Regions from separate parts of the Homo sapiens genome. Here region 1 is linked to region 2. The links come from fine-mapping of genetic effects on gene expression. Tissue or cell type: whole blood. Region 2 holds a variant in brackets; the other region holds the start of a gene. All regions are shown on one strand. Distances are from middle to middle.

The links. PIP is the estimated chance that this variant, and not a neighbour inherited with it, causes the effect.
Region 1: RALGAPA2 starts here. The variant in region 2 is fine-mapped to the expression of RALGAPA2 in whole blood (TOPMed, PIP 0.98).

Annotation. Positions count from the first base shown.
Region 1 is chr20:20,707,903-20,716,007 of GRCh38, reverse strand. RALGAPA2 (Ral GTPase activating protein catalytic subunit alpha 2) reads left to right here and starts at 3,364. Exons shown (of 40, transcript NM_020343.4): 1 at 3,364-3,633. The coding sequence starts at 3,528. RefSeq lists enhancers at 2,904-3,103, 2,928-3,222 and a silencer at 3,214-3,473.
Region 2 is chr20:20,391,262-20,399,346 of GRCh38, reverse strand. RALGAPA2 (Ral GTPase activating protein catalytic subunit alpha 2) reads left to right here. Exons shown (of 40, transcript NM_020343.4): 39 at 2,613-2,652; 40 at 6,094-8,085. The coding sequence ends at 2,617. Among named protein-coding and RNA genes, the nearest start is that of INSM1, 27 kb to the right of the region's middle. RefSeq lists a silencer at 2,808-3,102 and enhancers at 3,475-4,018, 4,019-4,563, 5,358-6,557. The variant G/T (reference allele first, on the strand shown) is at 5,003.

The DNA of each region.
Region 1 (8,105 bases), 320 kb before region 2:
TCTCCATAGAGTTATCCTACCAATTACATATATTGTTAGTTTTATTTTTTCCATTTATTTTTTATTTTCAGGCTTGTCTTTTTCTGTTTCAATTTTTGAATATGGAAAACATTTACATGGTTCAAAAATGAAAAAAATATAAAAAGATATACTCAGAGAGGACACTGAGTCCTTTCCACCTCATCCTCTATCCCACTTAGGTAGGCATTAATGTTAAGGTTTTTTTTTAAATCCTTCCAGTGTTATATATTAGAATATCTGCAGGGTAGATTCCTAGAAGTCAAAATTCTGGCTGGGTGTGGTGGTTCACACCTGTAATCCCAGCATTCTGGGAGGCTGAGGCCCGTGGATCACTTGAGGTCAGGCGTTCAAGAGCAGCCTGGCCAACATGGTGAAACTCTGTCTCTACTAAAAATACAAAAATTAGCCAGGCATGGTGGCACATGCCTGTAATTCCAGCTACTCAGGAGGCTGAGGCAGGAGAATCGCTTGAACCTGATAGGCAGAAGTTGCAGTGAGCTGAAATCACACCACTGCACTCCAGCCTGGGGGACAGAGCAAGACTGTCAAAAAAAAAAAAAAACAACAAAACATGGGAGGCCAAAGCCCATGGATCACCTGAGGTCAGATGTTCAAGACCAGCCTGGCCAACATGACAAAACCCCCTCTCCACTAAAAATACAAAAAAATTAGCCAGTCGTGGTTGCGCACGCCTGTAATCCCGGCTAATCGGGAGGCTGAGGCAGGAGAATCGTTTGGACCTGGCGAGATAGCTCCACTGCACTCCAGCCTGGGTGACAGAGCCAGACTTCATCTCAAAAAAAAAAAAAAAAAAAAGAAAAAGAAAAAAGAAAAAAAGAAATTGAAATTCTGGGTCAAAAGGCAAATATTTATTTTTGCCAAATTTCCTTCCATAAGAGTTGTAGCATCTAACATTTCTACCAGCTATGTTTTCTATAGCTCTGCCACCAGACTAGAGTGTGTTATCACACCTTGTCTCTGTAGAGGTTTTTTGTTTGCTTGTTTTTTCTAATTCAAATGATATTTCAGAGTAGTTTTAATTTGCATTGCAAGTTTTAAACTTTTGATCTCATTATTCTTATTTGCTGATTACTGTAGGACATTTATTCAACAACACTTAATGTCTGCATAACACTCGGCACTCTATAACTCCAGGGATAAAGAATTCAGTGCAAAGCAAGTGAAGCCCTCAAAGAGTTCACAGCCCAGCAGGAACGAGTTTAGAAAGAACAACAGAAAATAAGAAGAGCCATATGGAATATGCAAGTGGGTGAAAAAGTACCAACATAATAATACTATATGTTTCTTCCTTTTTAAGAGAAGAATTGGAGTTCTACATTTTCATTACTGGGTAAAGGCTAGATATGATGGGTGCGATGAATTTATATGCACAGATGCCTGTTTCTGGCATTACCAAGCTTGATAGTATCACATGTTCACTGTACACTGTCATTTATTCCCACATGTATCTAATCGCTCAGCCTCCTTAACTGGATTGGAAGCATTGGAGGTCAGGAGGATGCACCTTATACATCTTTTATCTCCAGGGTTTAGAATCATGCCTTACACATTGCAGGTGCTCAATAAATGTTTGATGATGATGGCAGCTTGCTTTGCAATTAAAAAAATGGAGTTTCCTAAGACAAGTATATTCTATTTTTTCAATCAGTGTAAGGAAAAGTATCTTCTCCTAAAGGAATTGGACAGTGAACATTGTGGTTTACTATGTGTAATCAGGTACAAGCTCAATTGCTGTAACGAAGACTCTCAAAATGCCTTGACTTAAGATAAGACATTATTTTGCTCTCTTGTTACACTTTTAGAAGTTTGTGGTCCTGATCTGTTATCATCTGGGGACTCAGGCTGGTAGGGCCGCTCTGCCATCATCTTGAGCATGGGGCTTTCATCTCCGGGTCTGAGAGTGATCCATGTTATTGGGTTTATCAGTAGTCTGTTCTTTTTTATTGCTGAGTAATATTCCTTTGTATGAATGTGTCTATACAAAGGAATATTACACAAATCTAAAAATAGAGAGACGCTCTAAAACTGTGAGTTTATTTATTTATTTTTTCCTTTTCGCCTGCCTGGTTGAAATATGTAGGACTACTTTAGCTTTTTATTGTATTTCATTTAATAAACTTTTATTGAGTGACCCTATGGGCCAAATACTGTGCTGAGGGATGGGGATACAAAGGCGTGTAAATCCTTGTCTCTTCCCTCAAGTTACAGTTCAGCTAGAGGAGAAAAAGACAGTTGTGTTGTCCCAATTTGGATGGAAACCACGTGATTCTACCTTAAGTACTTGCTGAAAAAGCTGAAAGGATGTCAAAACTTGCAGGATTCGGATGCCACTATACAATCCTACAGTGTAAGAAATCTCCTGACCATCTTTCAGCTCAAAGTCTTGCCCCAGGGAATAAGCGCCTGGCTTTAAAAAGTATACAGGCCTGAGTCAGATCCCTCAGGTTCTATTTCTGGTTCTGCTACTGGATCGCCATGTGGCTTGCACAACAGAGAACGCACCCTTCCTACAAAGAGGCAAGATCCCAAGGAGCCCTCTGAGCGAGCGACCTCCATACCCCAAGTGAGGTTGGGTTCCAGGAACCTAGGGGCCGGCTGAACTCCTCACCGGGGCACGCTCTTCCCTAGTGCCAAAGCAACTCATTTTAGTGTGAAATTAGAGCTGCGATTTCGGCACGGTCAGAGGGGCTTCGACTCGCTCCCTTGTGTGAATCCAGAAGCTAAACCTAAAAATAGTTTGCATTTGAAAAGCCTTGACACTTTTCTTACTGAGATTTTTGGGCGTGTGTGGTTCACGTTGCACTAGAGGAAAATGGGGTGGGCGCGCAGGAGGGAGAGTGAAACCACGGGCGATCTAGGCTGCCGGGGCAGGGGACGGACAGAGGCCGCCCTGCGCTTCTGCGACCCTGGAAAAGAGGTCGCAGCGCGTCGCCTGCTGGAGAACTTCATTTCCCAGGAGCACTTGCGGCCCGCGGCAGGGCGGGGCGACGTGCCCAATGCCGGCCCACTGACTCCCATCGTGCCGAAGACCGCCAGCCTGATTGGAGGACTGTCTCGCGGTGCATCTCGGGACTTGTAGTACAACGTGTGCGTGAGAGAAGCTCCTTTGTGATTCGAGGCGCCTTCTCGGCCCTCTGAGCGCGTCCCCGCTAGGTTTTGGCGCGGACGGGCTAGTGTCCCGCCAGGAGAGTTCGGCCTGTGTGCGCGTGCGTAGCGCCCAAGGGGCCGGCCGGCACCTCCCGCGGGGCGGGGCCTTCGGTTCCCCGTCGACACCGCCTTCCTGCCCCGCCCCTCGCCGTGACCGGCCCGCCCCTCCTTCCTGGAGACACAGCTGAGGCGGCGGCGGCGGCGGCGGCGGCGGCAGCAGCGGGGCTGGGGGCGGCGAGTGGCCCGCGCGACACGCGCCGGCCTCGACCCTATGCTTTGATTCGCGTGGCGCAGGCGCCTACTGCCCCGCCGGCGGGGCCCGGGCTTCCTGCCGCGGGATGTTCTCCCGAAGGAGCCACGGGGATGTGAAGAAGTCCACCCAGAAGGTGCTGGACCCGAAGAAGGACGTGCTGACCCGCCTGAAGCACCTGCGGGCGCTGCTGGGTGAGGCGCGCGCCGGGCGCGGGGGTCGGGGCGCCGGGTTAGGGGCACCTGCCGGGAGGGCGCTCCTCTGTGCAGGGGTCGGTGGCTGGGAGGCTGGGGAGGGGGATGGGTGGGCGTCCGACCCCCTTCCCTGGATCTGGGCTTGGACCCCCGGGGCTTTGTTTCCAGAAAGCCGCAGCCTGGCCCTCGGGCACTGCTCCCGTCGCCCTCGAGTTAAACTTAGCCCAGATTCTCGCTGGGCGCCTGCGCTCCCGGAGAACCTGGAGGCCGGGCACAGAGGTACCTGTCCCCTGTCCTCCCAGCAAGTGAACTGGATCCCAAGTGGTCATCACGTGCACACATTGAACTGTCACCTCCCCCTTTCATTTTTAAAATTTTATTTTTGAGTCTGAGACCCTAAGTAGACCGAGACCCCAAGTGAACCCAGCACAGACCTAATTGGGCTCTCATCTCTGTCATCCCCCTTTTAAATTTTATTTTTACTTTTGAGTGTGAGACCCCCATATAGACCGAGATTCCAGGCGATCCCAGCACAGATTTGTCATCTGTCTTCCCATGCTGCTTTTTAAATTTAATTTTTATTTTGGGTCTGGCTGCTTCAGTTTCTTTGTGTCCTTGGTGTGAAGGGGCCTTCTCTTCCTGCTTGGAGAGAGGGGTGGTTTTCTTGGGTTCAGGGAGGCTGCTTCTCCTTTATTACCGGCATGACAGTGATGCTGTCTGCCACCTTCTGGTTTATGGCCTGCCAGGTGGAGGTTCTGAGGAGCTCAGGTGGGCTTGGAGTTGACCTGTGATGAAGCTCGCCCCTGTGGGTGTGAGGTGTCCACAAGGCTTCCTGTCACCTGCTGCATGTGATCTGTAGCTGGTTCGCCTAGGCTATGTTTTGTTTTCTGTATTTTTTTACATCCTAAGTCTTAACTTTTCTTTGGGATGAAAACACCTTTGCTATCTATAGACACACTTACCTGTGTATTTGGTGGCGAAGGAAAGAACACCTTATGTTTCTTCCAGGTGTCTTTTAGTCCCAAAATTCACAAAAATCGCCTAGTGCTAATGTGTCTGTCACTTGAAAGAATATTGCATAAAATGATTTAACGTGTGAAGATTTTAAATAAAGATCTTGTTCATGAGATCAGAAGTTGCTGATTATTTCTATTTATATTCTACCTCTGAGGGGGAGAAGAACCCAAGCCAAACCAAACCACACCTGATTTTGCCAAGTGAAGTTATTCACAATCTCACATACCTTGAGGTTACACTGACTTGTTCAGTTTGAAATGAAATGTAAATTAGTTGCTGTTACAGGGATTCGTTTTCAAGACTTTTGAGAGTGAAGTGTGGAGAGTGAAGTGTGGCGTTCTTGGTAAACTGAATTTTCTACTTCCTGTAGATACCATGCACGCACAGGTTGCACAATACACAGGTTGCATTGTGTGGAGTTCCTGGTAGTGACTGATTAACACCTACTGCAGGGACATTTTTGATAAAGGAGAGTTGAGCTGTGTTTTAAAGCGTTTGATACTTTGAGCCTTTTTCTGTGCTTTAGCGTTTAAATTTTTGTTCTGTCCAGGTCTGCAAGATTAAGTTGGCTACATTTTATAAAGGCAGAATCAAGTAAACCTAGATCAGGTTATTTCTTAGCACACAGTACATTGTTCCCATTCTGAGAAAGTTGATTCTTTTCAAGTTTGTAAAATTGTAGTTTCACTCTAAGGTGTAGGTCTTATTTTAGGGAACTTTCTTTTATCATTTCACTGAACTCATCATGACCTCAGTTTTGTAACATGGAGAGGTTCTTTTATATTTCCTTAGGTGTATGTTTTTTGTTGATATACTTACTAGTGGAGTGGCCCAGTTTGCTTTGTTTATTACTGTGATCTTTGTAGGGACTAGATTTTTGTAAAATGTGTCTGAGGAATTCTAGTCATAATATTTAATGTAAACTTTCACTTGCTCCTGTGATTTATTAAAGACTTAAAAAGTAGTACGTAATGCACTAGTTCCTACCTAATCACATATTCTATTTCATTGCTACTCGAAAAAAAGTCTACTTAGAAAACAAAGGCCTCTTGAACTGAAAGTTAGGAATTAAGCCAAGATTAAGGAAACTATTTGAAGGAAATGAATAGTAATTACTATTGTATTTTTATGTGTGTATTTATATAACACTTTTGCTTTTCATATATTTTATCTTCAAGTGATAATAAAGTTTTTTTTTAAGTATGCAAAGATTATGCCACTTACTTGGGTATTTGCAGCCTGTCCCTGCCGCCTGCAGCTTCATGACTTGAGCTAGTTACGTAGCCTGTCTCTGAACCTCGGTTTCTTTGCTCTGTAAAATGGGTATGGTAATGTTTGCTTTTTAAAGGATTATTGTGAGTATGATGAATAAATGACTTCAGCTTGAAGTAGGCCTTTAACAGTTTCTTTCCCATTACATATCTCCCACCATTAATAGGATAGGACCAGTATTTTGATAGGTAATTTTTCTCCGTCTTTCTTATTTTTGATAATAGTGATGAATTTGTTCTCTTTTCCTAAAAAGTAGTCTGTATTTAAAACAACTGGGTGAGAAACATAAAATTAGCTGTGGAAGTAGAGTATTTCTTAGTATCATGGTAATAACTCCAATTTGGATGTAGATACTTTCACCTGGCTATAGACTGGTCTGGTATGATTAACTTTATTTTACAGAGGGGTAAGCTGAGGCACAGGCAGGCTTGACACGTATCAAGCCATGTAGCAGACGGTTTACTTATGTTAGAGGAAGAACGAAGAGCTGTTAGGTCCTGTGACTTCCAGTTCTTCCTACACTGTTGACAAAACAAAAACCAAAAAACCCTGTGTATTACCATATTGCTCCAGCAAAGATTCCATGTCTTTTTTTTAACAGGATCTTTGCTCTGTTGTCCACGTTGGAGTACAGTAGTTTGACCTTGCCTCAACTGCTGCAGCCTTGGCCTCCCTGGCTCGAGTAATCTCCCACCTCAGCCCCTGGAGTAGCTGGGGCTACAGGCATGTACCACCACACTAGGCTCATTTTTGTATTTTTTTTTTTTGAGATGGAGTCTCACTCTGTTACCCACGCTGGAGTGCAGTGGTGCCGTCTTGGCTCACTGCAACCTCCGCCTCCTGGGCTCAAGCAATTCTCATGCCTCAGCCTCCTGAGTGGCTGGGATTACAGGTGTGTACCACCATGCCTGGCTAATTTTTGTATTTTTAGTAGAGACAGGGGTTCACCGTGTTGGCCAGGCTGGTCTTGAACTCCTGGCTTCAGGTGATCTGCCCGACTCGGCCTCCCAAAGAGCTGGGATTACAGGTGTGAGCCACCATGTCCGGCCAGATTTTTGTATTTTTTGTAGAAGACGGGGTTTTGCCATGTTGCCCAGGCTGGTCTTGAGCTCACAGACTCAAACGATCCTCCCACTTCAGCCTCCCAAAGTGCTGGGCTTACAGGCATAAGCCACCATGCCTGGCCAGATTCTAATTAAAAGTTGAGTGCTTACTATGAGTCCTAAATTAGGATATAGAACTGGCATTGATGTAGTGAGAAGAATAGATACAAAATAATAGTAAATTTATGGTGTGTTATGTAATTAGATGGTCAGGTATATGGTAGAATCCATTATAGGATTTCAGAGAACAAAAGAGATAATTAAGAATGTCATAAAAATAGGGGCATCTTTAAGGAGATTTGTAGTAGTCTGTTCTCACTCTGCTAATAAAGACATACCTGAGACTGGGTAATTTATAAAGGAAGGAGGTTTAATTGACTCACAGTTCCACATGCCTCGGGAGGCCTCACAATCATGGCAGAAGGTGAATGAGAAGCAAAGTCATGTCTTACATGGTGGCAGGCAAGAGAGCTTGTGCAGGGGAAATCCCATTTATAAAACCATCAGATCTTGTGAGATTCATTCACTACCATGAGAACAGTATGGGGGAAGCCACCCTCATGATTCAATTATCTCCACCCGGCCCTTGACATATGGGGATTATTACAATTCCAGGTGAGATTTGGATGGGGACACAGCCAAATCATATCAACGTTTTACTTACGCTGGGTTCCAAAGAATGGTTAGACTAGTTCTGTCCAATAGAGATATAATGTAAGCCACATGTGCAATTTTAATCTTTTTTAGTGACCACATGTTAAAAAGTAAAAAGAATCAGGTGAAATTAATTTTAATAGTGCATTTTATTTAACTCCATGTATTTAATATATATTATATCTGCAGGTAATCAATATAAAATGCTATCAGTATTTTTTACATCTTTTTTTCATATGAAGTTTTTGAAATTCAGTGTATATTGTATACTTACAGCACATATCAGTTCACACTAGCTGTTTTTCAAGTGCTCATTAGCCATATGTCACTAGTGGCTGCACACTGGACATAGCAAGGTTAGAATCTGGGAAAGTAGAGGGGAAGGTCAATTACAACCAGGGGAAGATGGAAGAGCTGGTGGCAGAA
Region 2 (8,085 bases):
TTTGAGACGGAGTTTCGCTCTATTGCCCAGGATGTAGTGCAATGGCATGATCCCAGCTCACTGAAACCACCTCCCCAGTTCAAGCGATTCTCCTGCCTCAGCCTCCCAAGTAGCTGGGATTACAGGTGCCCACCACCACACCCAGCTGATTTTTTGGTATTTTTAGTAGAGACAGGATTTCATCATGTTAGCCAGGCTGGTCTCAAACTCCTGACCTTAGGTGATCCACCCGCCTTGGCCTCCCAAAGTGCTGGGATTACAGGCGTGAGCCACCGTGCCCGGCTGTCACAACCTTTTATCCATTATCACCCCACCGTGGAGCCTTCTGAGACATTTTGGTTTCCTAATTTGTCCCCTCCCCTGAAACACCACAGAAACACTGTGTATCTGTTTACTTACAGTACTTAGACCTGTGCTGTATGCATATAAAGAGTAGGCTATTTTGCCACCCCAAGGGGTGATATCCCCTCATTAGACTGCATGCTGTAACTTTTCTCCCAGATCCCCTGGAGGCAGCGGTTTCATCTGCTTTGGTCACCACTGTAACCCAGAGCCTAAAACAGTACCTGGCACATATCTGCTGCTCATTTGACAAAGGGATAGGACAGTTAGGCTTTGTGTCTCTCCCCTATCGCCCCCAGACGTCAGGTCCCTCCTGGCCTCTTCCCACCCCCCATCTCCGAGCACATTGCCCTCCAGGTGCCCTCCACACTGCCCAGGTTGGTCAGTGCCCTGTGCGTACCCCAGAGATGTATCAGGAAGCTGACAGCTTACTCCTCTGCTCCACGACTGGAACCCCACCCTTTGGGAGCACCGCCGTGTGTCAAGGGCAAGTGACATTTGAGCCCCATGGAATAATCAAGGCAGCCCCCAACTGTCTCTGTCTTTGCATCTCCTTAACTCAACCATGGATTGGCAGTTACTGAGACATTCTTTGTGGTCCAGCACACCACACCAGGCTGCGTCTGGGGATGCACAGGAGAGGGGCAACCCAGTCCTCATCAGCAATTACAAACAAGTCCTCCATTGTTAGCTGCGCCATCTGCTTTCTTGGTTTCTACCAATCGGGTGCCTGTACGCACAGCATAACCAGGGCTGAGGGGCTGCAGAGGAGTGAGATCAAGGAGCGCCTTCATAAAGAGACCCTTTGCTCACACTGGAGGGTGTCAGTGGCATGGTGCTCTAAAAGCCGAACTTCCTCAACTCAAGGAAGACCCACGCAGATATGCTCTATGTTTGCCCTCTTCCATGAGAGGAAATGGGGGCCCTTCAGCACAGCACATTGGGGGGAAATCAGAAATCTAAATGATTAATCATCCCGAGGATCCATGGAAAACATTCTAGCCCATGACCAACAGTCAGCAGCAGCCCAGAACCTCTTGTGCCCAAAGAGCACAACCAGGTGTGGAGAAGGAACGGTGTTAACGGTGGTTGGAAATCAAACCAAGGATCATACACGACCCACGATCAGTTACTGATCCAGAATCTCCTAACCCCAAATAATTTTCTTGGGAGAAAGGGACAATTTTCATCAATAGATTGGAAAAGATGTCTCCATAGCAGTGCACGTTTCTTTCATGGAGCCTTGGCTAAAAGAATGTTAGTGGTCACCTCCTGATGGCTGCTGGAGCCACCATCTTAGAAGTTTGCCCCTGTCACTGTGCCAACCTTGGCAACCTTGGCAGAGGGGGTCAGCAGAAAATCCACGTTTACAACTGTGACTGTGCAGACAATGGTCCACGTCACTGATAAATGTCCTTTGTCCAGATCTGATGGTCGTCTACTGACACAGAATTCAGGAGAGTTGTGGGGGCTGAGAGTTCAGGAGAAGCTACTGCCTGACGCAGAAAGAGGATGCATTTGCCAAGGAAACCCCGCCGTAGGAAATAGGATGGCGTGGAAGGGGTGGAAGAACCTGTCACAAGGCATAGAAAAGCTAAAATCCCCCTCAGTTCTGTGTGACTACTGAGACCCTGCTGCTCTGTGGGTGAGAGTGACCTTATGGTCCAATTTCACCACTCCAGGGAACCCTCCCAAGCTTTCCTCTGCACAGGATGCTGTGTGTTCCCTCCCTGGGGACTGTCATATTGCAGGTGACACCAGTATTAACACACTGTGTATAACTCAGAAACCTGTAAAATGAAACTTGGAGACATGTAAACTTGCCCACCTAGGGGGTTTCAATTATTTTTTCAGGTCATCCATTGAATTTCAAATGCTTGTCTTGAAAACACTTTTATCTTTGTATTTTAAACAAAATCAGTCAGGAAAAGTTGGAGAGCAGGGAAAGGATATAGCTGTCAGTGCTGTTCAGCATCTGTAGGGCTCCTGACAAGGTCTGCATGCATAGATCCTGACAAGGTCTGCATGCGTAGATCCTGGGAGTTCTAATGTCTCTCTCATTTCACATTTGTAAACACGACATCGGCTTGTATTTTGTCCTATCAAGTAGAATTTTCAAGTGAATGTTCAGTTTTTACTGATTGACAAGGCTGCAGAAATGCTTGGGCAGCTCAGGGATAAATGTATTATTAGCACTGTGTTAGTTATCAAGTTGGAGCTGTGGGGGTGTTGTGTTTGTATTCATTCCATTTTGTGTTCTTTCCCTTCAGATTAAAACACGTAAAGGTCTCATTTCAATATTTGAGCAAGGTAAGACAGACACTTCAGTGGATTTGTCCAGCCACCCTGCTTTGGGGAGGGGGTGGGACTTTTCTAATCGGCTGCCCTCGGTAGCGGACCCTGCATCAGTGCTCCTCGCCCTCCTGGGCCTTCCCCTCCCCGGGGGCCCTGCCCACACTCCTGCCCCTGCATGTCTGCGCTGCCCGGGGAAGCCCAGCCTTGCCTTTCTTCTGCCCGTGCACTCGGGGAGGAATCCGACACCAACACCTGCCATCCCGGAAAATGTCTTTGTCGCCTGCCCTTTTGTGTGTGGGGCTGCAGGGAGCCAGCGGGCGCTGGGGCCGCCCCCTTTTTTGTTGCCCAGGCCTGAAGGAGCAGGGTCTTGAGATGGGCCGATAAGACACGGCACGTGCTGGGCCGGCCTTTGACCGCCAGCCTTAATGGAGGCCTCTGAGACCTCCATGCGGGGAGGGCAGGTTGTGGCGGGGGCTGCTGAATGGAACAGCTGGGGAAGGAAAAGCGGACAAAAGCTGCGGGAGCGCAGAGGGTGGAGACCTAGGAATGGGCTGCGGTCTAGGACCCAGAGGATAGGCTGGCCATGGCAGGTGTGACCTCCCCAGCCTGCCTTTCTGTCCTGGGTCTGGGGTCCAGGCCCTGCCCAGAGCGCTCTGATGGATGGCAGCCGCCTTGGCAAGGCTGTCTGAAAACCCTGTCCCGTGTGGCCTGGGCTGCACCACCTCCCAGGCTCACAGGCGGAAGGCGAGCAGTTGGTAATGACAAGGATCACGGCAATGCCATTCACAGGAGAAAGCAAGTGAGCGAGCTGCCGTTCCTGAGCCTGTCGCCCACAGTGGAATGCAAGGCACAGACACCAGTCACTTTGTCTCAGTAAATATGGAAGTGGGATGTTAGGGTCCAGATTTGTTGGTTTATCCAAACCTTCACCCTCCTCTGCTAGGCAGGGCTGTTGGACCTGCAGGCCAGAGGAGCAGCCAGCATCACAGCCAGCCGACCCTCCAGCCAGCTGCCCTTTCTCTTCCCCTCACCCAAGGCTTAAGCCCAGTCCTGATATTGTCCCAAACTGGGCTCACTCGTGTCAGCCCCAACAGGTGACACGAGCCTCAGAGCCCAGGTGCTCATGTCAAGATGGGGCAGAGAAGGGTTGTACAGTCCCCTCCCAGCAGGGCACCTTGCTGCAAAACTTCGCATTTGCCGAGACCCCCGTCTCCATGCATGTCCTCCTGCTCCTGCCGCCAAAGTGGGGAGGTGAGGTTCGAGTGTCCTGTGAATAAATCCTTGGCTTCCATCACCGGGAGGAGGCAGTGCGAGTGGAGCAAAGCTGCGAGTGGACGTGTCATATCAGGAAGGCGGCCGTACCTTGTGTCCCGCCTACCTGTCCTGCAGCTGCCACCTCCCCACCACGGGGTGCTGTGGCACGAGGGCCCAGTGCAGATGAGAATGTCCCAGCAGAAAGCTGGGGACCAGAGGCCTGTGTAGGGCACTGTGGCACTGGCTGCAGCCCAGCTGCAGGGGTGGCTTTGCCCTTTGCCCCTGGCCATGGGATCCCTGCTTTCAGGTGCACAGGCCCCCTTCTCTGCAGAGCTTCCTGCTGTTCTCCAGGCTCACTCAGCGGGACAAAGCTGGCATTCCTCTGTCCATCTGCAGGAACTCGAGGTGCACCCCTCTTTCCCTCTTTATCCTCCCTGGGTGAGTGGGTGGGGCAGAGGAACTAAAATGTTTTCCTTCGAATCCAGAATTAGCAAAGGTTCGCTCTTTCTCTTTGGATCTCACTTTATATCTTTCATTTACTTGCCTTTTTTTTTTTTTTTTTTTTTGCTTATTTATTAGAATCAATCTGATTACCATAGTGGGCTGGGCTGTTGGAATATTGTCTGGGATTAAATCAAGTCTGTTCTCCCATGCTGCCCCACACCCTGGATTAAATGCCAGTGCCCACCACCAGCTGCGAGGGGATGGAGAGATGCCTTGTAACAATCTAGCTTCTCTTGTGGATGATGGTCTAGCTGTGCTGCCTTTGTCAGAAGCAGCCTGTTTTTGTGTTCTGAGGTTTTTCATGTGTGGTGTTTTTTTTTTGAGACTGGGTCTCACTTTGTCACCTAAGCTGGAGTGCAGTGAAGCCATCACTGCAGCCTTGACCTCCCAGGCTCAAAATCCTCTCACCTCAGCCTCCCAAGTAGCTGGGACTACAGGTGCGCACCACCATGCCTGGATAAGTTTTGCAATGTTTTTGTAGAGACGGGGTTTCACTGTGTTTCCCAGGCTGGTCTGGAACTCCTGGGCTGAAGCGATCCGCCCACCGCGCCCGGCTGCAGCCTGTTTTAAAGATGAGAATAGTGAGCCTTCTCTGTATGCCCGACCT[G/T]ACTGAGCCTAGAAGAAGGGAGGCAACCATGAAGCCCCTGGACTCTGAAAGTACTGAATTTCAGGACACCCTGAGCCAGGCTGCCTCCATAGGTCCAAGCACGTTTGCAAGTATTGATTTTGGAAACTCCTCCTAGAAACAATAAGGGAAGGTCAGAGAATGAAAAAAGATGCGTCTGTGAATAAAATAACTGACTTAAATTAATTTCAAATGCCAATAATAATAATAATTTCAAAGGCCAAAGCCCTGCAAGTGAATCACGCAGGGAGGAAGATGTGGAAACTCTGCTTCTGAGGTTGGTTCCCAGCAGAGGTCATGCAGGAAACTTGGGGCATAATACAACAGGGTTTAAAAATACACTACGAGGGGAAGGGTGATGAAATGATCCTCTCGCTCGCAGAACGGTGCTAGGGGAGACCCAGCTCCACCCGCAACAGTGGCTTGGTGTTGCAGCAGGCATTCTTGTATTCCTCTGAGCACACCGACAGCAGCCCTGGGGAAGCGGGGGGTGCAGATGTGCAGGTTTTAATTTTATTCCTTTTCCCTCCAGTGATGAACAGCTGTATGCTCATCTGGACTCATTCAGACAAGCAATTTAGGACTGACCTCTAGTCTTAGACCCTTTGGGGAATAATCGAGTTGTAACTCATTGTGTAGAATATCGATATGTAAACACGTGGAGATTCCAGGAACACCGCCAGGGATCTGCAGAGCGGCCTCTGAAGTTTCACGGGCTTTTCCATTGACTCCAGCCACTGCTTCTTCAGTGGCTCTTCCTCCCTTTCACTGTGACCAGATGCCTTTTCTCTTCATTCTTTACTTATGAATTGGACAGTAAGTCTGAATTAATTTCACAAGATTCATAGCTTCTTTTATGCTGCAGAAAAGCCCAGGGCAAAGAATAAGAAGAAAGACATTCATGTGTTTATTCATTCAACAAACATCTTTGCCGGCATAGCGTGGGAGGAGGTCACCAGACCCTTCTCCTGGGAGTTTCCCTCCCTTCTGAGTGCCACAGATCCTCCCTGAAATGTGTGGCCGTAGAGCCGCCGTTGCCTCCATGACTTAGCAGTTCTCTGCTTCCTTTGCAGGGGCCCTGGCCTCCAGTCTGAGTGCTGACCTCGAAGAGCCCCTGAGTGAGGAGGAGACAGAACACCCTCTCCTGCCTCTGCCCCGAGCCACTAAACCCAGAATCTCCAGGAAATTTCGTTGCTGTACTAGTGCCCTCAGCAGGTCTTCCCATTAGTGGACTTCTGAAGCCCATGGTGAATCCCACTACCGTGTCTCAGATGGGACTCAAACTAGGCTGTATCATCTTGTCCTGAAACCTCACAAACCTTGGACTTCCAAAGAAGAAAAGAAAAAGTCACCAAAAACCAGAGATGAACCCACTGACACGTGGGCACTGGTGTGGCTGCTCTGGGCAGATGACAGCAGGAAAAGATTCTGCGCTTTCAGGGAGGGGGCAGAGGGCAGCTTGCTTCTGCACCCCAAGTTGTTTCTTCTCATTTATGAACCCAAGCATGATTCACAAAGGGGCTGGCAAAACAATTGTCTAATTGAGGAATCTGATCTGCATTGATTTTGCTAGTTCCTTTTATGTTAGGATTTATGGTTTACTCAAAAATTTCATCATCATGGAAATTGGCTTTCCCCGGGGTCTTTTGCCCAGGAGAAGTTTTACCTCAGTTGTCCAGTGTTTTCCCACATGGTACCTGACGCCCGCTAACTAAGCAGAGGCTCTCCTCACCACGCAGAGGCGCTTCAGGTCATGACAGTGATGCCCCTATCTTAGAACACTCAGAAGATTCCAGAAATACAGGGTCCTGTCCTTGCATAAGTTCCTGCAGGACAGGAAGTGTCCCAAGGCTCAAAACAACACAGACCACATCCACACAAAAGGCGCATGCCGGCTTCAGGCGCTAGGCTGAGACGGGTACCCCCCGAATGGCCTTGTGCCTCCAAAAGCCTCACGCTGCAACTTTGCTGCTCCTGTCTGTTGCCCAGAGAGGCCTCACACAGGCCTCAGAAATGTTTCTTGTCACACAAAGCTTTTGGTAGCCGATTCCAAGCGAGGGATTTAATCCTTACATTTTTGCCCATTTGGCTCCAAGGAAGGCTTATTAGACCTGTTTTTTTGTTGTTGTTGTTTTTTTTTCTTAAAAACAAAATGAATGAATGAATGAAAAGAGAAGCAATGGTGAGCCCTCTCCTGCTGGGGCGCCCTGGGTGGGCCTTGCCCGTCCTGCAGCAGAGAAATCAGTCAGCAGCGAAGAGCTGCTGGCGCAGGCCCCAGGCTGTGTCCTGGACCCTTGACCTGCCTCAGAGCTAGAGGTTTGCTCCACCCCGCACTTCACTTGGGAAGTAAATCCAAGAAGCTTACCAGAGTCCATCGCCACTGCGCAGGCTTTGTTCTCACAGCGGCCAGGTACAGAGCAACGCCCTGCAGTGGGAAGGGACAGCAGCACGAGAGACGCAGCCCCTAACTCAGGGCTTATGATGGGTGGGCTGGTCCTGGGAAAGGCGGGCCCTGTGCGGGAGGCCTCCCCACCTTCCTGTGCCCTCTGCCCTCTGCCCTTGCACACACTTGTTACCTTCAGGCTGCTTGGCCACCCAGGCCTGAAGAAGCCTTCTGAGGCTCTCACCCCATCAGAACGGCCATTTTCACTGAGGAGCCAGTTTTTTCCATTTGCCATGGAGCTGGTTTGGCTGGAACCTGGCCTTTGTAGGGAAAACGGGGAGACTCAGGAGCCAGACTCACTCTTGGGACAAATGAGAAAGAGCTGAGCCAGTCGTTCCTGTCGGAAGGGCGGGCCTGCTCATCCTGGCGAGAATTTGCTTTTCTGCTTTATAGGGGATTGCAGGCCAGGCCCACTGACAGGAGCACCTTGAGAACCACCTGAACAGAAGAGAATGAGGGTGCCCCAAAGTGGAAGGAAGCTTCTGGCCCCTGGGCCGTTTTGGGAAGGGCCCAGGATACTCACGGGGGCTGAAGGGCAATGTGAAGAGTGACTGCAAGTCCTGGCATTTTCTGTGGTGTCAGCAAATGCCCCTTTATTTTAAATGATTCCAGACATCTGGGC